Linked DNA regions of Homo sapiens: all the other regions are linked to region 1. The links come from fine-mapping of genetic effects on plasma protein levels. Region 1 holds a variant in brackets. A gene starts in each other region. All regions are shown on their reverse strands. Distances are from middle to middle.

Region 1 (5,736 bases):
CGCTGTGGGTGCCTGGGACCCGCAGGGAGGATGGGCGCGGTGGCGCGGCCTGGCGGGGGGCTCGTCTCCGGGGTCCCCGGGTCCTGGTGAGAGCGGGGTCCCTCGACGCCGTGGCGGTCTCCAGCCTCTCCTCGCCCCTCCACGCTCCCCGCCTTCCATGAGCTGCTATTTTCAGCACCTACCGCCCGACCCTGGACTAGGACAAGGCTCTGGGCTGCCCTGCCCGCCCCCCAGCCCTTCCCTCGGGCACGGCGGCCAGGCGCCCGGGTTGACCGGGAACAGCCTCCATACCCCAAACGCGGAGGCGCCTCGGGAAGGCGAGGTGGGCAAGTTCAATGCCAAGCGTGACGGGGGAACTGTGCCCCGGGCCCTCAGGTGATATAGGAGTTAAGAAGAAATTATTGAGGCAACCAGATGCGGTGACTCAGGCCTGTAACCCCAGCACTTTGGGAGGCCGAGGGTGGATCACCTGTCCTTAATTTTCTTGGCGCCAGAAGATGAATTGAGTATTTACCCAGACAACAACGTCGCTTCAGAGGGAGGGATGCAGAACGCAGGGCCACGGGG[T/C]GCAGGCTGCAGGCCAGTGAACCCCAACGCCAAAGGCCAGGGAGAGCCGGGTGGGGTACCCAGAGCCAGCACACAGCCCTTTAATTTAGAGGAGTGCTGTGTACACATCTGGGGAGAGATGTTTTACTTTGATTTGGAATCAGGTGGCGGATAAGGCATACTGAGGCCTGACTTGGTGAGGGCTCCTGCCCCGGAGGTGCAGCCCTGGAGGAGCGGGAGGCAGAGGAGTGGAAAATTCATGAAGAAAACCGGGTATGGTGTAGGTCGAGGCCCTGCCCTCAGTAATGCTCACCATTTGTCAGTGTTTACTGTGAGGCAGCACTGTGTTCAGTATCGCTGAGTTCTCAGGAAGGAACGGTAAATACTTCCCGGGTCATTCTTTCACCCACGGGAAAACAGGTTTGGAGAGATCTGGGACAGTGCTCTGGTCCTAGGCAGGAAGGGCTGAGTGGGGCCTGGGACTCAGGTCTGACTGCAAACACCTGCCTCCTCCCTGTGCTGCCAGCGCCTTCCGGGTTCTTCCCTGTCCCTCCTTTGTGGTCTTTGTTTTCCCTTTTTTGTCTTAATATGTTTCAACGGATGTATACAATAAACCGCACATGAAAGGTACAGCTGGATACATCTTGACCCAGTCAAGATGATGAACACAGCTGCCACCCCAGGAGTCTGTCCTGCCCCACGGGTTATGCTGTCTTAGTTGGTCTCATGTCAGGGAGCCTTGGAGGACCAGGGTCGGGCAGTTGGTCTCTATACTCCTGGGGTTCTGGCACTGGCTCTGGCCCATGACCGCACCCAAGACAAACGTCTTGAAGACTAAGAGGTTAGGTCTTTGAGAAACCTGGCAAATGAGTGCCCATTCTCAGGTTACCCACATTCTGCATGTTGATTTAGTCATCCAACCAATGTTGGTTGAACACTGATGAGAACAAGCAGGCCTGTGCTAGAAGGTGCCTGCAGCCAGGAGCTGGTGAGCTGGTGTCCTTAGGGACACCAATGGCGAGGGACCCAGTGTGTGGAAATCTGGGGGACAAGCATGCCAGGGAGAAGAGCTCACATGGGGAAGGCCCGGCTCCACAAATCAGTCAGGCTTGTTGGGGCGGGCAGGAGAGCAGGGTAGTGGAGTCAGAGGGAGTGATCCCCCGAAAGGCAGGAAGAGGACATGAGAGAGCCTTGGAGATGACGGTGAGGATGTGGTTGGTGGGCGGTGAGCTGGGTGTCATGTGCTGGCTCCTTAGAGAATGCTCAGCTCCTTCACACCCATCATAATCCCTGGAGGACTGAGACCACGTGCAGGAGTTTTGGAAGCTGGCAGTGCACCCAGTCCCGGCTCTCCTCCATTCTGGTGGGTCTCACCAGAGATTGGCCAAGAAGAGATCAAACTGTTCCTGGACCAAACTGAGGGTGGGGCTGCTATCTCTCGCGGCCCAATAACGAGATGCAGATGAACTGGGGAGAAAGAGAGTTTTTATTTCTGTAACCAGTTACAAGGAGAAGACCTGGAAATTATCTCCAGACCAACTCAAAATTACAAAGTTTTCCAGAGCTTATATACCTTCTAAGCTATATGTCTATGTGTAAGTGTGCATTCATCTCAAGACATAAGTAATTGACTTATGTTAATCTATAACTAAGGTCTGAGTCCTGAAGACCTTCCTCTGGATCCTCAGTAAATTTACTTAATCTAAAACCCTTATCTTGTCTCCTAAATCATGGGGGTTTGGGAAGTTCCTTCAGACCCCCAGTAAACTTATTTGTGGAGTCCTGGGGAATTTCTTCAGATCCCCAATAAAACTTGTTTAATCCTAAATGGGTCCTGTTAAGAATTCCTTCGTTATTTTGTCATGCTTGAAGGCCCAGGAAAGGTCTAGGCAAAACTCTTGGTGGGATTTTGTTATATTCCAGCCTTTTTATAAGGGCACTGGCTTTTAATATTTAATTTAACCACTCAGTCAGTACTGAAACAGTTGTTAGGGAGGCCTGCGTTAGTGAGACCTGACCTGCCACAACACATCTTACTCGGAATGCTGCCCATAACTTCAAAAAATCAGCTTTGACGGAGCCCTACTGAACACACCTAGCATCTCTCTTCCTTCAGCTTAGGGTCAAGGGGCTGGGGTTGATGGCACCATTGAAAGAAACAGCTTTATTGCCGTGTCATTGATATGCCATAAAATTCACCTGTTTCAAATGAATTATTTTCAGTTAGTTTACAGAGTTGTGAAATAAATTTTATAACTTTTCCATCCCCAGCCCACCAAAACTCCCTGGAACTCCTCCGCAGTCATTCCCCATTCCCACCTGGCCTCAGACAATCACTTTCTGTCTCTCCAGTCTTGCCTTTTCTGGACAGTTCCTATGAATGGAGTCCTGTGTTACATGGTCTTTTGCATCTGACTTCCTTCACTTAGAATAATGATTCCGAGATTCATGTATGTTGTAGTATGTATCAGTATTTAATTCCTTTTTATTACTGAATAATCCATTGTACAGATAGACCACATTTTGTTTATCCATTCATCAGCTGAAGGACATTTCGGCTGTTTCTGCTTTTTTAGCTATTTTAAACTGCACGCAGCACTGCTATGAACATTTGTGTACAAGACTTTGTGTGAACATGTTTTCATTTCTCTTGGGTTGATACCCAGCAGAGGAATTGCTGGGTCATACAGAAAGTCTGATTTAACATTTTAAGAAACTAGCAAACTGTTTTCCAAAGTGACTGCCCCATTTTACATTCCCATCAGCAGTGTATAACGGTTCTAATTTTCTTTTCCTTTTTCTTTTCTTGAGACAAGGTTTTGCTCTGTCACCCAGGCTGGAGTGCAGTGGCATGATCTTGGCTCACTGCAGCCTCAATCTCTTGGGCTCAATTGGTCCTCCCACCTCAGCCTCCTGAGTAGCTGGGACTACAGGTGAGTACCACCACATCCAGCTAATTTTTGTATTTTTGGTAGAGATGGGGTTTTGCCATGTTGCCCAGGCTGTTCTCAAACTCCTGGGCTCAAGTGATCTGCCCACCTCGGCCTCCCCAAGTCCTGGGATTATAGGTGTGAGCCGCTGCGCCTGGCTGAGGGTTCCACTGTCTGTACGTCTGCAGCAATACATACCATTCTTGTGGGTAAAAGGTGGTATCTCATTATAGTTTTGATTTGCATTTCCCCAAGGTCAAATGATGGCAAGTGGCTTTTCTTGTGCTTTTTAGCCATTTGTATATGTTTTTGGTGAAATGCCTATTGAAATGTTTTGCCTTTTTAAAAATTGAGTTGTCTCCTTTGTTCAGTTTTGAGAGTTCTTTACATACACAGTATCATATATATATATATATATATATATATATATATATATATATACACACCAGATATATGATTTGCAAATATTTTCAACCATCAATAGTTTAACACTTTTTTATTGGTATTTTGAAGTAGAAAAGTTTTACATTTTGATCCATTCCAATTTATTAACTTTTTCTTTTATTGTGTATCTGGTATCATATCTAAGAAATCTTAATCCAGTGTCACAAAGATTTAATCTTATATTTTCTTCTAACCGCTTTCTAGTTTATGTGTAAGAATCTGTCCATTTTACCTAAGTTGCATAATTTGTTGGCAAACAGTTGTACATAGTATTTCCTTGAAATCCTTTTAATCTCTGTAAGATTGGAATTGCTGTCTCCTCTTTTAGTCCTGATTTTAGTTATTTGTGTTCTCTCTCTCTCTGGTCAATGTAGCTAAAGCTTTGTCAATTCTCTTGATCTTTTCAGAGAACTGCCATTTGATATTTTTTTACTTTATCTTTTTCTTTCTGTTCTCTAGTTCATTGGTTTCCACTCTTCTCACTTTGGGTTTAATTCGTTCTGTCTTTTCTTATTGTAGTTACTTACAATGGAAGCTTACACACTTGATTTAAGATTTTTTTTTCTAATGTAGACATTTACAGCTATAAATTTCCCTTGAAACACAGCTTTAGTTATATCTCATAAATTTTGGTATGTTGTGTTTACATTTTCATTCAGCTCAGTGTATCTTTTGATTTTCTTCTTTGACCCATTGCTTATTTAGAATTATGTTGTTTAATTTCTATGTATTTATAGGTTTCCCAAATTTCTTTTGTTAATTTCTGATTTCATTCCCCTGTGGCTAGAGAAGAAACTCTGTGGATATCAGTCCTTTCGAATTTCTCAGAATTGTTTTATGGTCCAGCATATGATTGACCTTGGACACTGTTCCATGTGCACTTGAGGAGAACGTGACTTCGGCTCTTGCCAGGTGGAGTGTTCTAGAGATGTCAGTTGGTGTCCAGTGATGTCAAGTCATTTGTATCTACTGATTTTCTTTCTAATTATTCTATCCATTACTGAGAGTGGGGTAGGATTTTGGTGTCCAATTATTGTTTTTTTGTTTTTTTTTTTTTGTTTGTTTTTTTTTTTTTTTGAGGTGGAGTCTCACTTTGTCACCCAGGCTGGAGTGCAGTGGTATGATCACAGCTCACTGCAGCCCCCACCTCCCAAGGCTTAGGTCACCTCAGCCTCCTGAGTAGCTGCAACTACAGGCAAGTACCATCATGCCTAGCTGATTTTTGCATTTTTTATAGACAGGGTTTTGCCATGTTACTTAGGCTGGTCACGAACTCCTGGGCTCAAGTGACCCACCCACCTCGGCCTCCCAAAGTGCTGGGATTACAAGCGTGAGTCACCATGCCTGGCCCAACCATTACTGGTGAATTGACTGTTTCACCCTTCAATTCTGTGAGTTTTTGCTTCATGTATTGCTGCGGGATAATTAAGGAATCAGAGAGACCGATGGGGTTGAGGAGGAATTATTTAATTATTTAGGTGCACCGACCCAATCAGATTAACATCCAAAGGACTGGGCCCCAAACAAAGAGTCAAGCTACCTTTTAAGCATTTTGTGGGGTGGGGGGAGATTTGTGCAGGGGGAAGAGTATTACAGAAGCAAGAAACAAAGACAGTTATTCAGTTAAGACATGCATTACATTATTTCTTACTTTTCAAGGAACAACACGTTTTATGACTCAAGATTATCTGTTTAGTGACCTTGCAGCTGCACAGCTAGAGAAACAGAGTCTTCGCAATGCCTGGGAAAGGGAGAGATAAGGCTCACTAGCCACAGAAAAACAGCCAGTTAATTTTTAAAGGACTCCAGCCCTTTC
Region 2 (5,928 bases), not on the chromosome of region 1:
GCTTTCCATGGGCATTTAGTCAGCTCAGGAAAGCCACTCAACTCCATACATTGTCACACTTTATTTTGGTGGGATGTGTACCCAGTGTGATACTCTGTGGTGTGATCAACAACCAAATTTCAGATATTTTAAAAAATCAAATACACCCACAAGGTATGGAGATGAAGCAGTGGTAATGATATCTAAATAGATATTCCACAAGATCTAAAAGTCATGACATGAAAATTATTCCAGGTAAGTGTCAGGTAATAAAATCACCTTAGGTGACTAATCCTAGGAAAACAGAACTAATGTGAGTATATAGAATTGTTCTAATATACTTAAAAATAGCGATTTTACTAATATTCTAATTTAGTTCTCAGAAACAGAAAAAACAACAAAAAAAACTGGCTTCCATAAACTAATATTCCCATCTCATGGCCTTTACAACTCTGGCACTAATCATTGTAAAGCTGTGCACATTCTTTATATCCACAGGCCATGAGGAATGCCACAGCTAGGCCAGCAAGGATGCATTTGCTGACTTGCCCAGGCACGTGAAGGATGCAGGGCTGGCAATGATACCTCTCAAATGCTGGGGACCAGCTCCCCACCTGCCCCCTCTCTGAGAGTGTCCCAAACCTCTCTTCCAGTTCCTTCAGAACTTCCTATCTCTATTTACCAACTCATAGGTAAGGTCCCTACAATACATTCTCCTTGCTTAGGTGAGATGTACCCCTCTGGTAGGGCTCCTGCTATAGGTCAGAATTGCTGAGAAGGACTAATCCATTACAAAGCATATCCCTGAATGACTTAAGGACTTGCCCCATCTGAAGACATTTCATCAGTGGGCAAAACTCACCAAATGCTAGGCAGGAGGAGTGAAAGAGGAACAAACTTGGAGAGACTCCTATGAAATTTCAGAATTGCAACCATGCACACAAAAATCCTAAAACCTTCATTTCCAAAGAAAAGAGATCTTGATTAATAAAAAACTTTTCATCAGTAACATGAACCACTGGAAAACAATAGAGATAAGCTTTCCAAACATTTAGAGAAAATTATTTTGAATTTAAAATTTCATATCCAGGCAAAGCATAGTGGCTCATCCCCACAATCCCGGCACTTTAGAAGGTGTAGGCAGAAGGAGATCAGGAGCTCAACACCAGCCTGGGCAACATAGTGAGACCCCGTATCTACAAAAATATTTTAGAAAGTAGCCAAGTGTGGTGGCACAAGCCTGTAGTTCCAGCTACTTGGGAGGCTGAGGCAGGAGGATCGCTTGAGCCCAGGAGGTTAAGGCTGCAATGAATCATGATCACACCACTGCACTCCAGCCTGGGCAACAGAGCAAGACCTTACCTCTAAAAAACAAGAAAATTACCTTTGACCAGGCCAAGAAAATTACCTGTGGCTCATGCCTGTAATCCCATCACTTTAGGAAGCTGAGGCTGGAGGATCCCTTGAGCCTAGGAGTTTGGGACCAGCCTGGGCAACACAGGGAAACCTCATCTCCACCAAAATTTTTTTTTAAATTAGCTGGCCATAGTGGTTCACACCTGTGGTCCCAGCTACTCGTGACACTGAGGTGTGAGAATTGCTTGAGCCAGGGAGGTCAAGGCTGCAGTGAGCCACGATCATGCCACTGTACTTCAGCCTGGGCAACACAGCGAGACCTTGTCTCTAAATCGATAAATGAAATAAAATGAAATAAAATAAAATAAAATAAGATAGGGAAATTTCACATCCATCTGAATAACTAAATAAAAAGGTATAAGTATTTTGAGATATGCAAAAATTCAGTAAGTTTATAGCCATACGATCTGTATGAAAAGGTTATTCTAGGACATGCTTCAGTAAAACAAGCAAAAATGCAGTTAAAGGATGAAATGAGAGTGAAGAAAACGTTGCTGTTGAATGAGATCTAGCAGAAATAAAGAAAATGAAAAAAAATTAAAAAGAGACTCACTCAGCCTTAGAATTTTGGAAATATTTTGTGAGGGCACATGGAATTCACATTCTTTGTCCAAGTGAGAGACAATATTGCCTGATGGTTAGGACATGGGGTCTGGAGGCAGACTACCTGGAGTTAACCACTATCCATAGTTTGATTTGTAAACTTTGCAACCTTTGTAGTAGGTTCATACACAGGCACGCCCATATGAAGACACATACCAGCACGTAATCATCTGTAAACCTGGGAATCAACTTGCTGAAGCCAACTCCATTTTTACCCGAGTACCCCACAATTGCCGATACCAGTTTCTGATCTTCCCATACACCTTAACAACTTTCCACTTCTCCACTTCTTCCATTATCCTTCATTAGGTGAAAGAAAGCCATTTACTTACTCCTAGGCATACCTGAATGTTCTCTCCTATCTAAGACATTGTCATACAATGCCAGCTCCTGTCTCCCCTCCAGCCAATAAAACTAACAAAAGGGGATACGCTCTTTTAACCTCTTGGAGTTTTGTTTCTTTAAGGCAAAGATGTGATTTGCTAAAAAGACTGTTGCAAAATGATTTCCATAGCTTCCCTAATGTGTTTTTTCCAGGTACAGAATGCTACAGAGAAAAAAATTAAATACTGCATAAATACATTATCACATTAACTAGATATTGGTGCTATTACTTGTGTTCTGAGTTATACCCTTCTCCCATGCCCATATCATATCCCTTTTCTTCCACTTTCCTTCCTGAATAATTCTGACTAGATTTCAAGCACCAGATCAAAGAAAGACCAAAGAAGGCTAAAACCACATGCATTCTGCTAGCAAACTCTACTCAGCAAGAGAGACCCTGCCCAGTAAGAACGTGAAATGAACACCTTCACTTACTTGGATGACTGCTAGCCTTTCCTTTTTTCTTTAGTCCAAATCCAGACATTTCATCAGGGAAGTGTGTGGCAAATAGACGGCACTCTCGAAAGTGAAAGTAAAGCTTGAAAAAAAATGCTTTTATGTTTGGTGCATTCCAAGAAGGGCAAAGGGAGAAAACAAAAACAATCTCTGACAACCTCAGAGAGGCGTTTCAAACCGCCTCTGAAAAACACCTAGTTTTTATTTTATTTTAACTTTTTTTAAGCTGAGATCCTTGGATTTCATTGAAAGGGTCACAGATTTAGCAACAGCTAAAGTTGAAAGTGGGGACCTCACCATTTGATGTGGGCGGGTCTGGACCTCTGCAAGTTAAGGAATAACAGTGAATCCCTCAATTTTCTGCTAGACTCATGCGAAGCTGTCAGAATTGAGTAGTGTATGGTCACAGGGACAGAAAAAAAAATCCCTAATCAAAGCTGAAGTACTTTCCCTTCTTTCGTCTGGCTTTTATCTCTTTGCAACACTGTAAAATAACACCGGCAGAAATTAACCTCTTGATCCAGGAAGAAACTGAGTTTCACAGCAGAGAAAGAGCCAAACATGGCAAAGCTGAGAGCCAGTCCCACTCCTGCTGATCCACTTTTCCACGGTCAGACGCGTTAGGGAACAGATCAGTATGCCCAGAAAAGTTCAGATTAACTAAGAATTTCGTTCTTAATTTGCTTTAATGACTCCAACTAGTTAAGTAAATGTACTTGTTAAGAAATGAACTCACTTTTTTTCATTACAGATGTGCTATGATCTATTATAACTATATTGTTATATAGTGAAATATCACAATTGGAAGGAACTATAGACCACCTAATCTAACTCCCTTGTTTGAGAAATTAGGAAAACGAAACCTAGGGAGGTGAGTGGTTTGCCTAAGAACATGCCACAAGCCACCATATGCTTCAATCACACAAGTCATAAAACAACTGGACGGCTGGGACATGGCATTAGCTTGAACTCATTGCAGAGCTGATGGCAAGAAACAAGCGTGCATCATGGTGCAAAGTGCCCTCTTGTGGGCTCCAGCTTCAGCTAGACCGCTTTATAGTTACTGGGCTCAGGGCTACATGTCTCTGATTTTCATTTGTGACATCTGTAACATAACACCATAAGCAAACAGATGTCCTGAGTACGTGACTGTCCCTCACATCTATCCATTGGGATGTCCAGGAAAACTTCACTAATATTCAAAAGATTTCTTCTCTGTGAGCGCCTTGAAGGCAGGGTGAGGTTTATTCTTTGCATTATAGCTCCCCAGCAACCCTCTGAGGTAGACTGTTTCTTTGGCCTTCAATGAAAGAGACTCGTCCTCAGAATTCAAACCCTTGTGTGGCCTTCTCCCACGCTGACTCTAGGCTTGGCCATTTGACTAGCTTTGACCAGTGGGATATTAGCAAGCATGCAACAAGGTCTCATTGCCAAACACGATTACCCAGGCTTGAGAAGCAAGCAAATAAATGATTGTTGTTTTAAATTTAAAAAAATTGGAATGGTGTCATATGCATTATTAGCGAAATAAAACACATCATCTCAACAATCCTTCATACCTATCCCTTATGCCTTATGACTCCTTATACAGATTAAATTTCCCACGACTTTGGTTGACTAATGAATGGCTCTCGATAAATAAATTTTATTGATGGTCTCCTGATGCAGTAGTTTGGGCTTAATACCAGTTCATATTCAGATATTATTAGTCCTTAATTCTTGCTAGTTTCTAAATACAACACAGATTGTTTTCTCTCTACTGTACATTTCTTAACTATGTGCATTAACTTATTTAGCTATGATGGTGATTGGAGCAATAGTGAAAAACCTCATTTTTCCCCTTTTTAAAAGAATTAAGGCTGGGAGCAGTGGATCATGCCTGTAATCCCAACACTTTAGGAGATTGCTTGAGCCTAGGAGTTCAAGACCAACCTGGGCAACGTGGTAAAACTCCATCTCTACAAAAATTACAAAAATTAGCTGGGCATGTTGGTGCATGCCTATAGTCTCAGCTACTTGGGAGGCTGAGGTGGGAGGATCACTTGAGTCCAGGCAAATTCAAGTTTGCATTGAGTCATGAGTGCGCCACTGCACTCCAGCCTGGGTAACAGAGGGAGACCCTGTCTCAAAAAAAGAGAGAGAGAGAATTAAAAAAAAATGTATGCCCATAAATGTAAAATAACAAATTTAGTAAACACTGATATTTCACAGCATTACAGATCAGCCAATCTCAGAATAATGGGAAGCTGTATATTCCCAGCAAAACAGAGATCTACAGAATTCTAGAAGCCAAAGTCCCTTAAATTTATTCACATTCTAAAAACTCTAAGTTCCCTTCTTCCATTTGAGGGGCCTCTTTAATGAGAGTTTAGTAAGATAATATACACAAAATTTCTGGAAGAATCACTTGACAAAACACAGCAAGTTACAGAGACCGGAGTGACAAGCCAGATATAATTAGCAAATTACCACTCACATGCTGAACTACACAGACACTGTTCTTCTCTGCCCGTTCCTAATAACAATTCTTAATAAAACAGCCGTTTTTATTTTTTTTAATCTTTTTTTTCCTGAGACAGAGTCTTGCTCTGTCACCCAGGCTGTAATTCAGTGGCGCGATCTCAGCTCACTGCAAGCTCCGCCTACCGGGTTCAAGTAATTCTCCTGCCTCAGCCTCCAGAGTAGCTAGCTGGGACTACAGGCACGTGCCACGACGCCCGGCTAATTTTTTGTATTTTTGGTAGAGACGAGGTTTCACCGTGTTAGCCAGGATGGTCTCGATCTCCTTACCTCGTGATCCACCCACCTTGGCCTCCCAAAGTGCTGTGATTACAGGCGTGAGCCACTGCGCCCGGCCAATTACAACCATTTTACCTATAGACAAAGATAGTGTATAGTCTGTAGGCAGTCTAGTCAATTCATTATAAGATTTATAAGGGAAAGTTTATCATTTTCATTATCATCATTATCAGCACCTACAATACTGAGGCTTTACGGAACCATCTTTACAATCTCCCGAATGAATGAATTTAGACATGAGGATTGTGTCACCGCAGTTTCTAACCACAAATATAGAGAATTGAAATTGTG
Region 3 (5,928 bases), 36 Mb after region 1:
ATACAACTGTCCTGGCTAGTAATACCACATTTCTGTAATGCATTTTTTTACAGATGTGTATAAATAGATATAAATAGGTGTCCTAAGTTGGAGCAATAACGTCTTCCACCCTCTTGCTTATTGGCTTTCTCCCATATTTCTTCTGCATTTACATATTTCTGGTATAATTTTAGATTTGGGGCACACTTGGTTTGAAAAGGGTCTATGTTTTCTCCACTACTTTTGTCTCACATTCCAAAAAACAAAGGGGATGCCATTCTTCAGGGCAGCACCTGCCACTCATCTGCTGTCAGGCTATTGCTTAAGGCACAGATCTTAATGGCCTGGCAGGTTTCTCCACCCTACAATCTTAGGGAGCTGTGGCCCAAGGGCAACTGTAAAACCCACGTGTTAGAATAACTTAGCTTTCTTGTGATAGACTGAGTAAACAAATAGACAATGGCCATAGTATATGGCAATAGAACTCTGACCCACAGAAGAAATGAAGCATAATATCTGCAGAGACCAACTCAGAACAGTCAGGACTTACTCAGTGGCTGACAGCTTCCTCATTTTTGCCTCTGCTTCCAACCCAGGACAAACCAGAAAAACCAAATATACTCCACAAACAAATCACATAAGACGCTCCATCTCTAGTTATCCCTCCTTCAGCTTCTCCATGACGACACTCTGCAAAGAGGACATAGCTGAAGTTGCCCCCTTTTTCCCCTAAAGCTTTTCTTCTCCCTCGTCTTTGAATTATCTCCTTTGTTATAGCAAGTTCTGAATATATGGCCTCTGTTTGTTCTTAGGTGGTGGTCTTCATTTATTTCCACATGTGAATGATGATTGTGTTCAACACAATGATTAATTTTTAAAAAAGAAAAAAAACAGCTATTTGCAGTACAAGATGCTTTTTTTTTTTTTTTGAGACGGCAAATTTGCAGTACAAGTACAAGATGCTTTTTTTTTTTTTTTTTTTTTTTTGGGACGGCATCTCGCTCTGTCACCCAGGTTGGAGTGCAGTGGCGCATGCTCTGCTCCGCTCACTACAACCTCAGTCTCCCAAGTAGTTGGGACTACAGGCATGCATCACCATGCCTGGCTAATTTTTGTTTGTTTGTTTTGTATTTTTGGTAGAGGTGTGATTTCGCCATGTTGCCCAGGCTGGTCTCAAACTCCCAGGCTCAGGAGATCCACCTACCTTGGCCTGCAATACAATATACTTTTGTATTTTTTATATAACCACCTGACAGCTTTGGCCCCTAGTTGTATTTGAGAGGGAAAAGCTGCTATTTATTTAAAGGAAGGACATATAATTATTAATAAATTGATTTTTAAAAAGATGTATTTGCCTGATGGTGCTTCTGAAAAGTTGTCAGTTTAATTGTTTTTAATTTGTTAAAAGAAAATCCATAGCCAAATTAAATTTAAGAGAATTTAATTGAGCAAAAAACAATTCGTGAATCTGGCAGCCTCCAGTGCCAGAGTAGGCTCAGAGAGACTCCAGTGCAGCCACATGGGGGAAGATTTATAGACAGAAAAGGGCAAGTGAGGCACAGAAACTGCAGGATTGGATACAGCTCCATGTTTGCCTTATTTGAACATGGTTTGAACAACTGAACCTCTTTGATTTACAGAAATTCGGGGATAGGCACAAGAGCAGGCTACAGTCTGTTTACACCTCCATTTAGATTACAATTCGCTATGTACAGAGAAACCTTTAGGCCAAACTTAAATCACATGGGGAGGCAGCTTTAGGCTAAACTTGATTTCACAAATTTTCAAATTAACAAGTAAAAACTGTGGATATTATTCAATTTAATCTTTAAGAGTTTATTAATCAATATGCATTATAACTTCATTTTTGTAAAAACAAAAAAAGATATGCCTAGAAAAGGGTTATGGAGAGGGCACAAGGGACGTTTATTTTCTAAAACATATTTTTTATAATGGATTTTTTTATATAACTTTAAAAAGAATTAGAAACGTTTCTGAATTATTAATGATTTCCTTAAATCTTTAGCTACATATATTTCTCCATAAAGAGCAGTTCCTCAAACTGCATCACCTCAACCCTGATATTATATATTTTTATTTTTATTTTTATTTTTTGAGACAGAGTTTCGCTCTGTCACCAGTCTGGAGTGCAGTGGCACGATCTCAGCTCACTGCAACCTCCGCCTCTCGGGTTCAAGCAATTCTCCTGCCTCAGCCTCCTGAGTAGCTGGGACTACAGGCGCCCGCCACCACGCCCAGCTAATTTTTGCATTTTTAGTAGAGACAGGGTTTCACCATGTTGGCCAGGATGGTCTCGATATCATGACCTCGTGATCCGCCCGCCTCGGCCTCCCAAAGTGCTGGGATTACAGGTGTAAGCCACCGCGCCCGGCCGGTATTAAACATTTTTAAAGTAAATTTATTAAATCTCAAAAGAAGCACACTTTGAATACTGAGGAAGAGACGTTGTAACCCATAAGCAGAGAGTAGGTAAGTAAAAGCAATTTCCACCACTCTCAGACTGGGCGTAGTGGCTCACGCCTGTAATCCCACCACTTTTGGGAGGCTGAGAGGGGAGGATCGCTTGAGGCCAGGAATTCAAGAGCAGCCTAAGGAAACTTAGCCAAACTCCATTTCTACAAAAGAAAAATTTTTAAAGCAATTTATTTCACCATTCTCAACGCTTTTCTCTTTTTTATTAACCAAATATTTCTGTAACTCTTTTTTTTTTTTTTTTTTTTTTTTTTGGTATTGAAAGACATGGGAGAAGGAAGAATTCCTGAATGCAACAGACTGGGAAGGACGCACCACAAAACGCTCCGCGGTCTCTGGACACCCTATCAGCTAGTCCCGTCCCTCCTGGTGTCCGGTCTCGACCATCCATCCCGTGTTTTGGGAGTGCCTTTCCTTACCAGATTCTTCTAAAGCCCTGATGCACCCACCCTTAAGTGGAAGGTAATGCTTCTGCTGGGGGCTGTGCGTTCTTCCACTCCGTCCCACCTTTGCCGTGGACTAAACAGGAGCCACTGAACGAGAGTACCCTGGCTCCCGGCCCTGCAGATTTTCACCAAAAACTCTAGGACTAAGTTAAAGTAGGGACTGAAATACCACACAGAGCTCGCTGTAAACCACCCGCTCAGCGCAGTAAGTCGGGATAGTCAGTAGATCTGAGCCCTTGAGGGAGGCGCCTCCCCCTCCTCCGCGCAGCCCCCGGGCGCCCGGCCCAGCTTCCCGCAGCCAGGGTGTATTGAGGTAGGCGCGCCCAGACCTGAGACGGGTTGGGACTGGGCTGCGTCACGCGCGGGCTCTAAGCGCCCGGGGCCCCGCCCAGTGGCCGGCACAGCCAATCGCAGCGCGGGAAGGCGGTGGGGGCGGGGAAGGCCGCCTGGAAACTTAAATCCCGAGGCGGGCGAACCTGCACCAGACCGCGGACGTCTGTAATCTCAGAGGCTTGTTTGCTGAGGGTGCCTGCGCAGCTGCGACGGCTGCTGGTGAGCGCCCCCGACCAGACCGAGGGACAGGGCGAAGGGGGACTGGAGGAGGGAACCCCCCTTTAGGGACACTGAGAGGAGGCGGGCGCTTCTGGGAGTGAGAGCTTCTGCCCGGAGCTCTGCCAGCCTCGAGGTGGGGAACGGGGGAGGGCGGTTGGAGACCCCAGGGAGGCGCCGGCACCACTGGGAGGGCCCGGGCGGGGCAGGTCAGTCATCCTGTGGGCTGAAGCCGGACCGGACCGGGCGGCTTCATGCCCCCAGCCTGGCCGCGGAGCCCCCGCTCCCTGCACCGCCGCAAACATTCTCGGGGCGCGGCGGCGCGTGCAGAGGGCGAGAGCAGGCGGTGCGGCCCCGGTCCTGGCCCGCCCGGAGCTCCGGGAGCTGCCTGCCTCGGTCCGGGCCCTGGCCCTGGGGCCCCTGGCTTCCAGCGGCGCGGCCTTGTGACCCTGCCCCGGTTTAGGGGAGCGAGTAGCACAGACCCAAGTGTGGGACGGCGGGAATAGTGGGTGCTCTCCTTCCCAGTGTCTCCTGGAAAGGGATTCCCGAAAGGTTTTATTCCAAAAGGAGAGGTTGGAAGACATAGCTCATCTCCTGCTGTGTATCAGCCAAGAAGGTGTGAGGTGGTGTTCCTTGGGGATCCGCTTGCATCTACTTGGGATGGTACGTCTTCATTAGTGAGGTTTTGCCTGGATGACCTCAGTACAATTGGTGCAAAACCTGGACCAACTCTTTCCTAGTTTTCTAGTTGTTGCCTTAAGCTTCTCACCCGTCAGGTATCTTTCACACCCTTCTCATACCCTAAATTATCGCATATGCTGTTTCAACGCCTCCAACTCTGCAGGCTGCTTTTAATTTTGGTGGGCCCATCAAATACCTCCACTTGGCCTGTTTCAGCCTCTTCCACAGTCCTTGGGGAAATGCTAGGGAGAATAATTGAAATATTTCTATTCCACGGGGGCTGTAAGATGGCTTTTTAGGATTGGTCTAATCAGATACTCATTTCTTTTCTCTTTCTAGGTTTTGAAACATGAATCTTTCGCTCGTCCTGGCTGCCTTTTGCTTGGGAATAGCCTCCGCTGTTCCAAAATTTGACCAAAATTTGGATACAAAGTGGTACCAGTGGAAGGCAACACACAGAAGATTATATGGCGCGGTTGGTAACATCTGAAACTGTCCAGAGGGACTCTGGAGAGAATGGTCCTCGCTGTTGGGAGTTGATAGCCAGAGAGTAGCTTCTAGACACCAGACCTTACCAGGCAATAACCTAACAGCACCCATTATAGGTGCAATATGGGCATATATCTCCATTGTGTCTTGGCTTGGAGAACAGCTCCCAGAGAAGTATCAACCCATCCCTGGCCATGGTTTCTCTTCCATTTCTGCCCGCAAATCGGCTTGGTGAACATGGGTTGGGTAAGTAGACATAAAGTCCACCAGCTATATGTTTGCCTCTAGAATGAAGAAGGATGGAGGAGAGCAGTGTGGGAAAAGAATATGAAAATGATTGAACTGCACAATGGGGAATACAGCCAAGGGAAACATGGCTTCACAATGGCCATGAATGCTTTTGGTGACATGGTGAGTGTGGCAAGGATTGCTGAACTCTGTGCTGCTTCTCAGTTCTTCACCAAAATAGTCTTGCTTTTAACATTTTATTTACTTCTCCTTGAAGACCAATGAAGAATTCAGGCAGATGATGGGTTGCTTTCGAAACCAGAAATTCAGGAAGGGGAAAGTGTTCCGTGAGCCTCTGTTTCTTGATCTTCCCAAATCTGTGGATTGGAGAAAGAAAGGCTACGTGACGCCAGTGAAGAATCAGGTGAGACAGCGTCAGATTCAGACCCTGTCTCCACAGGAAAGCCAAGAAGGAATTGGTGTCATTGCTGTGGTAGATGGTGGCACAACATATGGTGATGGGTTTTTTGTATTTTTGGTTTTTGGTGTTTTTTTTGTTTGCTTGTTTGAGACGGAGTTTAGCTCTTGTTGCCCAGGCTGGATTGCAATGGCGTGATCTCGTCTCACTGCAACCTCTGCCTCCTGGGTTCAAGAGATTCTCCTGCCTCCACCTCCCGAGTAGCTGGGATTGCAAGTGCTCACCACCATGCCCAGCTAATTTTTGTGTATTTTTAGTAGCGACAGGGTTTCACCATGTTGGCCAGGCGGATTTCAAACTCCTCTCCTCAAGTGATCTGCCCGCCTCGGCCTCCCAAAGTGTGGCGATGGGTTTTTTTTTTTTTTAAAGAATATTAAGGTAATTCAATTATGGGGTACTGTATTTGTATTGGTCTTGTAAATTTACAGCTTTTTTTTTCTCCCTTTTTAGAAACAGTGTGGTTCTTGTTGGGCTTTTAGTGCGACTGGTGCTCTTGAAGGACAGATGTTCCGGAAAACTGGGAAACTTGTCTCACTGAGCGAGCAGAATCTGGTGGACTGTTCGCGTCCTCAAGGCAATCAGGGC
Region 4 (5,928 bases), not on the chromosome of region 1:
GTACATTTGCCCAGAGGCCTTCAGCTAATGGGTGTATTCTTTACAAGCCAATAAACAGATGAATAAAACCAGCTTGACATCTCGCATCTCTGTCTCTCTCCTCTTTCTTTGCCCTTTGCCCATCTTTCACAGACATTTTATAAAAACGAAAATTTTCCTGGGTAACTCAAACATAGATTGCCTTCATTAAGTCACTTCTACACGCGCCAGTCAGTCCCATGAGGGGCTTTCTTATTGCTGGAGAATGTGTTGTCTACCCTCAGGAGATCCAGCCTATATGGGATGGAAGTATGGATTGCTACTCAGTGAGTCAAAAAGAACCCCAGAAAATTATGGACTTGTAACTCTGGATGGCATTTGCTCGTTTCTGACCATTGGTGCTGATTTTGACTTGATGTCATTAAATGATTAATTAATGTACAATGCAACAGAGGCTGACAAAATCACCCTGAGAAAAGCAAATCTGAGGATCTCTAAGCCTGGGGATCCAAACCTGGGCTCTGAGAACAAATGGGGAACTGTAGTAGAATAAAGGGCCCGCCATAGTTGCCATGAAAAAATTAACCAACCTTGGCCAGGTGTGGTGTCTCACACCTGTAATCCCAGTACTTTGGGAGGCTGAGGGGAGCAAATCACTTGAGGTTAGGAGTTCGAGACCAGCCAGGCCAACATGGCGAAACCCCCTCTCTACTAAAAATACAAAAATTAGCCGGGCCTGGTGGCGGATGCCTGTAATCCCAGTTACTAGGGCAGGAAAATCACTTGAACCCAGAAGACGAAGGTTTCAGTGAGCCAAGTTCACGCCACTACACTCCAGCTTGGGCAACAGAGCGAGACTCTATCTCACAAAAAAAAAAAAAAAAAAAAAAAGAAACTAACCAACCTTGAAACAAACTGCATTCTCAAAAGTCTTTAAAACCCAACAATATATGGTTGTCCTGCTCTTCTGCCAGTTCCTGTCTCACTACCTCTCCTTTCCTTCTAGGATGCTACTCCCTGCCTGTTCTCTTCTTCAGCCCTGCTCTGAACATTCTGTTCCTATTTTCACTGCCCCAACTCCAGACTACCTCCTACAACCCCAGGAGAACGCCCCCTCCCACTGCCTGGGGAGGCTCTCCTAAACTATAGCCTCTAGCCAGGCCAGCACATTGAGGTCATTGCTCTCCCTGCCAAATGACTGGCCTGAGTTCAGTGTCTCCATCTGTCTGAGCTTCATGGAAAACTTGATTGTTGCTCTAGGCTCTCTATTCTATGTCCTGCCTTAGCTATGTCCTGCTTTGCATCTGCTTTTTTGTTTCTTCTCCCAACACCCTTTTCTTCCCCTGACTCTCCTCAGACTAGAATCACATCTGTTTTCTAGTCTCAGCCCCTTCACTGGGGAGCAGATGGAAGAAGAGCAAGTTCTGGGGCAGGAAGATCAGGAAGAGCTGGGCGTAGCACTCAGCTTGTTCTGCGGACTGACCAGATTCCATGTATCTTAGAGATGTAGCACTTACAGCTCCCTCGGAGGTCCCAGAGGTGCTTACAAAGTGCGATTTGCTTATTTCTGTGTCCACTGCTCTTTTTTCCTCTCAACTAGACTCCTTCCTTCCTTCTTTCCTTCTTTCCTTCCTTCCATCATACCCCCTTTTATTTTCTTCTAGTATGTAATTTATTAATACTATCTGCTCTCTGTCTACCTGTACTCTTCTCTAATTTATTTCATCAGGGAGATATATAATGTAGACTAAAGGGGAGCCAACAGGAAACCTGAAACTTACATATTTCTATGGCATACAAGGTCCACCATTCCTCAGACTTGAGTTTCTGTAATTCAAGTTTGCTCTTGAATCCAAAGCGGGAATGTTTTAGTGGTTGAACCACTAGAGTCTCTGTGAATAAGAAGAAATACAAAGCCTTTAAAATTCCTGAATCAAGGCTGAGCAACATAGCAAAATCCTGTCTCTACAAAAAAATACATCTAAATTCGCCTGGCATAGTGGCATGCACCTGTAGTCCCAGCGACTTAGGAGGCTGAGGCAGGAGGATCACTTGAGCCCAGGTCAAGCCTGCAGTGAACTGTGATCATGCCACTGTACTCCAGCCTGGGTGACAGAGCAAGACCCTATCTTAAAAAAAAGAAAAAATCCTGGATCAGAGAAAGTGTTATCTACACATTATATGATCTAAGGAAAAATATTGGTAGAAAATGAGGCAAGCATAATAACCTTGCCTTTCAATTTTCTTTGGGCATCTGATTGCATTTTATCCTTAAGAGCCCAGAAACCCAGATTCTTAGTTAAGCTCAAACAAAGCCAAAAGACAAAGTAAGGCTGGCACCCCTTTCACAGAGCTTCTCTACATTTGAAAATGATTTGGAGAGTTCTGAAAAGTTCCTCAACTTTTTATAACCCTAAGGTAGCCAGCCTTCCTCTTGGACAAAACTCATAAGGTATCTGTGTTCGCTTGGTTGTGAGAATACATAGGATATTCCAAGGGGAAAAAAAACAAGAAGAGTCTAAATGTGTAGGTCAAGAAAGAGGCAGAGATGAAAAAGAAATACAGGAATAAAAAGAAATTTGTTAGTGCTGAAGAGACGAATATTGAAAAAGAAAGTGAGAAAGAAGGATGAAGGAATGATTCAAATATGGAATATAAGGAGGCTGAGGCAGGATAATTGCTTGAACTCAGGAGGCGGAGGTTGCAGTGAGCCAAGATCACATCATTGCACTCCAGCCTGGGTGACAGGAGCAAAACTCTGTCTTAAAAAAAAAAAACAAAAAACAAAGAAGAAGAAGATAGCCAGAGAGAGAGAAACAGCATCTATAATGTGCATTAAAACACACCAAGGAGGAGACGGAACTTTTCGGTAAGAAAGAACCCAAGGAACAAAGGGGAGCTGGGACCAGATCGTGAGAGGAGGGAAAATAGGCTAATGGAAGAAAGGCAATACATGAGCTGGGGCCAACACTTCCAGGGAGCAGCAAGAGCTCTCACCAGTGTAGTCATAACATTTGGAATGAGGGTGTGAGCAACTGCAAATTCCCATCTCCCTTCTCATTCCAGCCTCATTGTAACACACATTCTACGCCTAGCCTGGCTTTCTTGCTCTCCCTCATCTCATTGTTTCAGCGGAGGCCAAATCTGAAGTCCTTTCCAGGGAGTGGCTCTGTTCATCTTATTCGCCAGCCAAAGTAGGAACAGCGTAAGAGGAGAGAGACACATTCAGCAGCCAAAGGACTCGGTGGAAAGAGCAGAACACCATAGACAGTGAGTTATTTGATTACCTGAAACCCTAAAGAGACAGAGGGAATGTGTGTATGTCTGTGTGTGTGTGAAAGGGCTGGAGGGGGCAATGGGGAATGTCACTGAACTTAGTCTTGAGCAGACCTCCCAAATAACCGTGGAATTCTGATGAAGGAGACGCCAAGATGAGCAGATGATATGAAAAAGTCACGCATATGAGAAAGGAAGATTCCACATCAGGGGTGAAAGAGGCCAAAGGGTAGGGCCAAGTACGGACCATGTAGAATGTAAAATTTCCTCTGACTTGGTAGCAGAGAATAATAAAAGCAAGAATAATGGTAAGTGACCAAGGAATAGATTTGAGGGAGAAATGAATGTTGGGTGAAAGGTAAGAAAAGAGAGAAAGGGTTTGAGTCATAAGGGAAAATGAAGAAAGTTCTGGGAAGACAAAGAGACAGGGACCTCAGAGGCATCTTTCCCTGGCACTGAAATGCTGATGTGCCTCTGAGCATCACATTCTCTGCTATGCCCACCACCCCTATAGATATGTCGCTCTTGGGACCCAAGGTGCTGCTGTTTCTTGCTGCATTCATCATCACCTCTGGTGAGTCCTTTATTCTTTGCTCCCTAAACCCTCAGCTCCTCAGCTATACACGTGTGTGGCAGGAGATGGGATGGAATGAGGTCGAAGAGGAATAGCAGTAGAGATGCTTGGTATTGAGCTCTGGAATTCCTATTAGAAGAACAGATTTTGTGTTAAGAAAAAAAGTTCAGGAATGTGACTAGACTTCAGACTAGGGGAAAGGCCTCCCAAGAATTATGAAACTAAGGTGCAACTAAGATACACACAAATGCATATTAACCACCCAAAGAGGGTCACATATGAGTAAACAAATTGCAAAGCAAAAAAGAAGCTGATATACAAATGCATACACAAACATAGAGGAGGGACTACCTAGAAAGAAACTGGACCTGGGCTGGGCATGGTGGGCTCACACCTATACTCCTAGCACTTTGGGAGACTGAGTGGAGAGGATCACTGAGACCAACCTGGGCAACATAGTGAGATGAGTTAACCTCATCTCCATTAAAAAAAAAAAGGAAAAAAGAAAAAAAGAAACTGGACCAAATGTAAATCTTGAAGAAGAACAGTGGGAATACATACACTATTACCATCATGCATGCAGGTATACTCACATGCATGCAAAAAATATATGCCATACTGACACACAAGAGAAAAGTGATCTTCACAGATTTCCCAGAATCTGGCTAGAAGACTGGCCACAGAAAGTGAACTTTAGGCTGTAAAGATGTCCTACTCTATTTTTTTCCCTCCTTCTTCCGATACAGATTGAGAAAAATAATTCTTCTGTCTTGTTCACTAGCATAGCTAGCGGGGAAGCCGTGGGGCTAGAAGGGCTGCCAGGCCTCTCAGTGGAGCTGGACTTCATTCCTGGCCAGGAATGAGGGTAAGAGGGCAGCAGGGCTTTGTTCTCAGGAACTTGTCTTTTTTTTCTTTTTACCAAACAAATGCACAGCAGTGAAGGAACTTGTCTTTCTGAAGTCTTTCTATTCCTATTGGTTTTGTTCATAGCACTAATGGTCTCAGTAATTTTATATTGAGCTATATAGGAATAAGTCACAAAGATAAAGTATAACCATTTCTCCATGATTTTCTGATTTGTCTCATAAAAGGGTTACGAGGTATAGAGCTGCAGTCACTCACATCTCTTTTCTCTTCCTTTGCTATAGACTGGATACCCCTGGGGGTCAATAGTCAACGAGGAGGTAGGTGAACCCTTGGATAGCGGCTCTGTTGGGGTTCTTATCAGGAAAATTTAGATGAACAGAGTTAAAAAATCCTTCCTGCTTATCTATCGCTGCCAAAAAAAAAAAAAAAAGAATATTTCCTACAACAAAGAGATGCATTGCCAAAGTGTGAGAAATAGGATCAACTTCACCAGTTTCCACAATCCTATTATCCCATTCATAAAAGCTTCTTGTGTGTGTGTTTTTAAACTACTGAAACACCTTCCCAAGACATCCTCTATGACCATTTCTGTTTTCATTTTTCTTTACACATCTCCTATCTTACTCAGAAAATGCTTACTAGTCCTTACAAAAAGCGTTCCTTAATTCATGTAACAGTGGAAAAATGAAAGACAGGATAAGAAGTCATCTTATACCCATAATCCCAGCACTTTGGGAGGCTGAGGCAGGAGGATCGCTTGAGCCCAGGAGTTTGAGACCAAACTGGGCAGCACAGGGAGACCTCATCTCTAGAAAAAAAAAAAATTAGCCTGGCATGGTGGCGCATGCCTGTGGTCCTAGCTACTCAGGAGGCTGAGGCATGAGAATGGCTTGAACCCAGGAGGCTGCGGTTGCAGTGAGCCATGATCATGCCATTGCACTCCAGCCTGGGCAACAGAGTGGAACTGACTAAAAAAAAAAAAAAAAAATTAGAAAAAAAGAAGTCATGTCAATCCTAGGTGAAATTGTGGCACAACTGAGCAAAACCCAAAAGGTATTTTTTGGTTTTTCAGCTTTTTAGGTAATTTTTGCTCACACCATTCTCTATAACAAAAATCCCAAAAGTTGTGACCCCTAGAGGACCACTTCCTTCGACTTCATGAAGAAAACTCCATTCTGCCTCAAGGCATTCAACATAATTATAATTTATCTCTTTATTTCTCCCATCCCAGG
Region 5 (5,928 bases), not on the chromosome of region 1:
GTGGTTGTCTTTTTCCTTGCTGTGTCCTGGTACCTAGTGCACAGCAGGACTAGAGGAGTGAATGGTGCCACCTATGCTCCTTGGTTTCTCTGCCCTATCCCCTGTGCCCAGGGCGCATGTCCGGAGGGTGGCATGGAATCCCTTGATTTTTTGGAGGCTGTGGGCCAAATCCCGCATCACATCACAGGAGTCCCTATGTAAGCCAGGTGTGACCAGCTGTAATCTCCTCTCATTTCAGAGTCATTCTCCCCTCCTCCCTCTCTTCTCCTTCCCTGTCCCCACTCCGCAATTTGGTGTTCACTCTACTTTCCTCCATGACTTGACTGAGGGACTTGGGTGACTCCTCCCTGGAGATGACTCTTGGCACTGCTGGAGCATTTCATACAACCCAGGTCTCTGTTCCAGTCTTGTTGATTAAACCCATGGTTCTCCTCCAAGCATAAGGCTGGGCCCAACCATAGTCTCAACCAGAGAAAGGGAAAAAGTGACCAAGCTGTTTTCTTCCTCCATCCTTATCCAGAGAAAATATTAGAACCCCAGGAACACAGGAAGAGGAGAAACTAAAAAAATGAGCACAGACTTCCCGTTCTCATCACAGCGGTGATTTTTTTGGTCACTAGGTCTGGCCAGAGTTCCTCTTCTGTTTGGAAGAGCAGGGCATTGTCTGAGTGCCCGGGAGAACTGCCCACCTTCCTGACTGGAAAGTGTGGCCAAGGCACCTGCCTGCTTCTCTGTCTTTTCTCCTGCCAGGCCAGGTGCCAGATAGAGCATCCAGAGGTTTGCACAGGAGAGGTGCTCAGGAAAGACCTGTAGATGAGCATGATAATAGGAAGATGGCTTCTGACTCCCTCCCTCTCCACAAAGTGGGAAATGAAACTTCCTATGGTTTGGGACTTTTACATCCACCTCCTCTGAAACCCCAGAAGGCCCACAGCCCAGGATTCCATGCCTTTGCTCAGCTTCCTCATGCTGGAACAGCCTTTCGCCTAGCGGTAGCTATTCTACCTACCTCAGCCTGCATTTCCATCACTTGGAGTAAATGCTCCCTGCTCCAGCCCCTTCCTATGCCATGGGCCCAGCCGCTAAGGCTTCCTCATCCTTTCCTGGGACCAATGAGAGGGCATCTGGGGGGCTCTATAAAGTATAACTCATACCACAAACCAGCAGAGAAAACCCAACTTCCTGACCGAGCGGAAATGGACAAGACACTTCCCAGGCACACTGTGTGGCGGCTTCTTTCCCGCAAATGCCTCAGGAGGAGACATGGACCCCTGCAAGGCCCCTTCTACCAGGGTCTTGAGTAATTTGGATTCTTCTCTATCCCCAGGCCCAGAAATAGGACAGGCTATGGATGAAGGGCCAGGAGCCAGGAGCAGAAGGGCAGAGATGATTCTGGAGTTAGGCTGGGTCCCAAGCATGAGAGTCCAGAAGTGGAACATTCTAATCCTGTCTAAGCCCTGATGGAACCAAGGCTCTGCAACCACACGAGCCACCTGAAGAGAGTAGGAATCTTCATGGACACCCAGAGGCAGGCAGTGATGTGGAGCCAGGCCCTCATATTCGGGACTATCAAATGTTAAAATTTAGAGCAGACAGCAGGCCTGGAAGTTACAGACAGGCTGGGTAGGGAAGCGATGGGACAGAACAAATGAGACACCATCTTTGCTACCCAGTTTCCTTCCCAGAGCTTCCCAGTGTGGGGTCCTCTCTGGGTTCCCTCATCCAGTCCGAGAAGCCACTCCAGCCTGAGGCCCGGTTAGCTGGAGAGAGAGCATCAAGGGCCTGTAACTACAATGAGCTGCACATAGGCATGGGCTGAGCGTGCAGCCACTATCCTCCCAAGTACCAAAGGTGGCAGTAGCCCCTGAAAGCATAGGTAGATATTTCCTTGGCCCTGTTAACTTAACCTCTAATCCTGGTCCCTGATACAGGCTGTCATCCAGCTCCACTGGCTCAGCCTCAGCAGGCCCAGGACAGCTTTCTTTTCCTGCGGCCAGAGCTTTTGTTCATTCCTGGGTAAGGAGTAAATCACACTTCCCCTTATGCTTTTGCATTGAAGATGAATGAGAACTTCTGGAGACAGTGGAAAAAAGCAGCAGCTTCTAGAAGGCAGATCCCAGGCCCCAGACTGTGTAAATGTCTGAGTGGCATGATCAGCTATCAAGTCTCCAAGTCACTTACCATTCACACATCCATCCATGCATCCTCTATCCATCCATTCATCCATTCACCCATCCTCCAATTATCTGGACCAATTTCCTTCTTTTTTCTTTCCTTCCCTCCCTCTTTCCTCTCCTCTTTCCTATATTCCAAGAAATATTTGTCTAGAGTCTGCCATGTGCCAAATTTCTCAGATTTGGCAGACTTCTTCAAAGCATGAGAAGCCGCCCAGGAGAAAATTTAGTCCTTCATTGAGCCCAAATCAGCTCTTCTGTGCCCTGAGCTTCTTGCACATATGGAACTCTCTATTTAGGACTACAAAGAAGGAGAGAGGAGGTGCGGACAGAGAGAGAGGAGAGAGAAACAGAACGATTCCTAGTCTGAGGTTGCTGAGCGCCCCTACTTTTTTTGAAAATCTCACATGGTGCAGGAAGCAGGGAGGAGAACCCAAGTCTTAGGTTTACACTTTGAATCTCCAAGTTGCATATTATAAAGGGATATTGTATCAGCCAAGATGCATTAATAACAGGAAGCAGGATATTCTATTGCAATGGTTGCCTATTTGGTATCTCTGCTTCCAGGCTTCTCCCCACCAGTCTGCTCCTCACCAGGATCAGAGTGATGTTTCTACAGTGTCCCTGTCCTTGTCTCTCTCCTGCCTGAAGTCCTTAATTGGCCCCATGTCACCCACAAGCCAGAGGTCCAGCTCCTTGACATGATCAGAAGGATCTTCATCATCAGACCCCAGGTGCCTCTTCAACCCCGTGTGCATCCCCTTCCTGTTGGAATGTATATTTTACATTCCAGCAATATTGCAACTATTTACAATTTGCCAAGCACTCCATGCTATCTTATGCTCCATCCTTTGGCATATGCTTATCTTTCTACTGGATTTTTTTTTTTCCCATTACTCCATTTCATATGCTTCTTTGAACTGGGCATATTTGTCTCTTGTGCTCATCACCTTGCAATTTATTTGCTCATGTCTGTCTTTCCTACCAGACTATGAGCTGCTTGGTGCAAGGACTGCGAGTTATTCATCACTGTGGCCCTATGCCTGGTAGAGCATCAGTACCTAGAAGGCACTCAGCCTGTATTTGTGGGGTGAATGGATGGGTGGATGGATGACGAGAGTCTTACAAGAGAAATGGGATAGGTTTGGGACAAGATGGTTAATGTATCCATGTAACAGACCCCCAGAGAAGACAACAAATGGCCTCTTCCTGAAAGCTCAGACTTCTGAGGATGGGAGTAAGCCAGACAAGGTATCTAGTCAGGAATAGGGAAGTTGGGATGATATGGTGACCTGCTGTGGGACTGACTTCCTGTTTCCTCTAGATAAGAGCCCTTGGAGAGACAGGCAGCCAGAAGCACCTGTGCTCCCAGGATAAGGGTGAGCACTCAGGATGACTGTGGAGAAGGAGGCCCCTGATGCGCACTTCACTGTGGACAAACAGAACATCTCCCTCTGGCCCCGAGGCAAGCCACATCGCTGCTGAGAACCTGCTCCGTGTTCTGTGTGCAAACCTGCCCTTTGCTGCTCCTTCAACACACATTTTCTTCTTCTTCCAACAGAGCCTCCTCCCAAGTCCGGTCCATCTCTGGTCCCGGGGAAAACACCCACAGTCCGTGCTGCATTAATCTGCCTGACGCTGGTCCTGGTCGCCTCCGTCCTGCTGCAGGCCGTCCTTTGTAAGTCCTCATGTTTCATCGTCTGGGCTTAGCCCCTCTCTGTGGCCAGCCGGCTCCCTTCAGATCGAGACCACTTCCCTGCTCTCCGGGTTTCTCCTGCCTGTGGCTTTTTCATTTGTCTCCTTCCTCCTCTTTCCATGTGCAGTAACAGGCTGTGCTGCCCCCAGTACGGTGAGCTGATGCTCTTTCCCTCCCAATTTCTGGGAGATTATTGGGATTAGCATTTGCACATTGGTGCTCAAGGATACATTCTTTTGTCCTCAGGAAACATTGATCTAGTTTTACATCCTGTGCTATTTTCTCCCCGTCCACCCCCCACCAATCTGAGCTCTGCTCCTTGGATCTAGAGCCTTGTGGACAGTCCTTGACAGTGCAATGTCTCCTGACCCTGTGAAGGACCGAGCCTCATGTATCATTGGCCCCAGCTCACCAGATGGAGAGCCTGGCCAACGAGCCAACAGATCTCCATGACTCAGTCCCCTCTCCCCAGGACTCGTTGGTGCTGTCTTCATTCTCCTGTCCCTGTGAAGATCACATCTAGGGAGGCTTCCTGCTCATTTGATGTTGCATGGTTTATCTTTCTTCCTTTTCTGGCTCTGTCAGGCTTCATGGCCTTTGCTGCTGGCAGAGCCTTCTTCCTCCTGCCAGGGCTCCAGGAAGCAGAGCAAAGGGACCCAAGAAGCTGTTGGGTTTTTTTTTCTCCCTCTGTGGCCTCGGGACATATTTGGGCTTAGACTTGTAGGCTCTGAGCAGAGTCCCCCTTGCCCCATCCTAGACCCCTGGCCTCTAACATCGCATTTTCCTCAGGGCTCGCCTTTGAGCCTCTTGGTTTATCTTTGATCCTCTCTCTGGTACCCAGGCCTGGGACCTGAGCAGAATGTGAAAGTGGGTGGGGCAAGGGAAGGGGAGAAACAGTTTTGTAATCTCCTCTTCCATGTTCTCTGGAGAAGCCACTTCCAGATTAGTGGCTGGTTCTTCCCATGGTCACAGAGGGGCCCATGGACAGATGTGGGGGAGTGGTGCTGTCCTAGCAGATGGCCACTGCAGGGGTTTCTGAAAACAGAGGGATGGCAACCAAGGGGTGGGGTCTAGGGGGAATCAAGTTCTGGGGACAGTGGTGGGGCTCATGGAGGGCACCCTTTATCAAATGTTCCCTGAACACTCAGAAAATTCAGGAATGGTTTCTAACTCCTGCTTCTGCTTGCCTGTGAAATCTTTTCACAGAGAGCCTGTGTTTTATCAATCTCCCCATTATCTGTATCCACCTGTGTTCCTGGCACATGGTAGGTGCCCATTGCACGTTTGTTGTACGTTAATGAATGATTGGAGGGTTGGGGTGGCCCATTGGACTGTCTTGGTTCTTTGGGAAGCTTCAGCCTATTCCTTCCCTTCCTTTGATCAACCTGACAACACCCCCACTCCTGTCCCTGGGACTCCCCTCAGCTGACCTCCTGACTTTCTCAATCCCAGATCCCCGGTTTATGGGCACCATATCAGATGTAAAGACCAATGTCCAGTTGCTGAAAGGTCGTGTGGACAACATCAGCACCCTGGATTCTGAAATTAAAAAGAATAGTGACGGCATGGAGGCAGCTGGCGTTCAGATCCAGATGGTGAATGAGAGCCTGGGTTATGTGCGTTCTCAGTTCCTGAAGTTAAAAACCAGTGTGGAGAAGGCCAACGCACAGATCCAGATCTTAACAAGAAGTTGGGAAGAAGTCAGTACCTTAAATGCCCAAATCCCAGAGTTAAAAAGTGATTTGGAGAAAGCCAGTGCTTTAAATACAAAGATCCGGGCACTCCAGGGCAGCTTGGAGAATATGAGCAAGTTGCTCAAACGACAAAGTAAGTGACTCAGAAAATTACATTGAAGCTGACCAGTGGCCCATGGGATCTTACCTGTCCCAGACCTGAGGCCATTGGGCTGGTGGGTTGGGGAGGAGAGTGGGGGCAAAAGAGGGGCAGCCATGGGCTAGGAAGTTAAGGAGAGAGGGCTTGAGGTTGGGGAGGACTTAGGGGCTGTTAGGAGAAAAGAGACCAGGGTCCAGCTAGAGCTCCCACACAAAAGTGCAGAAT

Direction of the effects. Alleles are on the strand shown, and positions count from the first base shown. The strength of an association depends on the size of the effect and on how common the allele is.
With allele C in place of T in region 1, the plasma level of the protein whose gene starts at base 2,910 in region 2 is higher (strong association).
With allele C in place of T in region 1, the plasma level of the protein whose gene starts at base 3,399 in region 3 is higher (strong association).
For the plasma level of the protein whose gene starts at base 3,050 in region 4, T is the low allele of the variant in region 1 and C is the other (strong association).
For the plasma level of the protein whose gene starts at base 3,527 in region 5, allele T in region 1 goes with a lower level than allele C (strong association).

The links. PIP is the chance, under the fine-mapping model, that this variant and not a neighbour inherited with it causes the effect. The UK Biobank Pharma Proteomics Project read protein levels with antibody pairs (Olink). The fine-mapping took linkage between variants from a reference panel, not from the people measured, so its PIPs are less certain.
Region 2: it holds the start of TLR3, and the variant in region 1 is fine-mapped to the plasma level of the TLR3 protein (UK Biobank, PIP above 0.99).
Region 3: CTSV starts here. The variant in region 1 is fine-mapped to the plasma level of the CTSV protein (UK Biobank, PIP above 0.99).
Region 4: MFAP5 starts here. The variant in region 1 is fine-mapped to the plasma level of the MFAP5 protein (UK Biobank, PIP above 0.99).
Region 5: CD207 starts here. The variant in region 1 is fine-mapped to the plasma level of the CD207 protein (UK Biobank, PIP above 0.99).

The regions. Positions count from the first base shown.
Region 1 is chr9:133,269,246-133,274,981 of GRCh38, reverse strand. It overlaps the pseudogene ABO. Among named protein-coding and RNA genes, the nearest start is that of OBP2B, 63 kb to the right of the region's middle. RefSeq lists cis regulatory regions at 5,602-5,627, 5,666-5,690, 5,689-5,696 and enhancers at 5,441-5,736, 4,388-5,736. The variant T/C (reference allele first, on the strand shown) is at 568.
Region 2 is chr4:186,066,138-186,072,065 of GRCh38, reverse strand. It overlaps TLR3 (toll like receptor 3), which reads right to left and starts at 2,910. Exons shown (of 5, transcript NM_003265.3): 1 at 2,818-2,910.
Region 3 is chr9:97,036,613-97,042,540 of GRCh38, reverse strand. It overlaps CTSV (cathepsin V), which reads left to right and starts at 3,399. Exons shown (of 8, transcript NM_001333.4): 1 at 3,399-3,470; 2 at 4,488-4,623; 3 at 4,926-5,048; 4 at 5,143-5,289; 5 at 5,794-5,928. The coding sequence starts at 4,498. RefSeq lists a silencer at 3,055-3,364.
Region 4 is chr12:8,659,948-8,665,875 of GRCh38, reverse strand. It overlaps MFAP5 (microfibril associated protein 5), which reads left to right and starts at 3,050. Exons shown (of 10, transcript NM_003480.4): 1 at 3,050-3,249; 2 at 3,770-3,829; 3 at 4,978-5,013. The coding sequence starts at 3,772.
Region 5 is chr2:70,833,415-70,839,342 of GRCh38, reverse strand. CD207 (CD207 molecule) reads left to right here and starts at 3,527. Exons shown (of 6, transcript NM_015717.5): 1 at 3,527-3,639; 2 at 3,736-3,852; 3 at 5,323-5,697. The coding sequence starts at 3,567.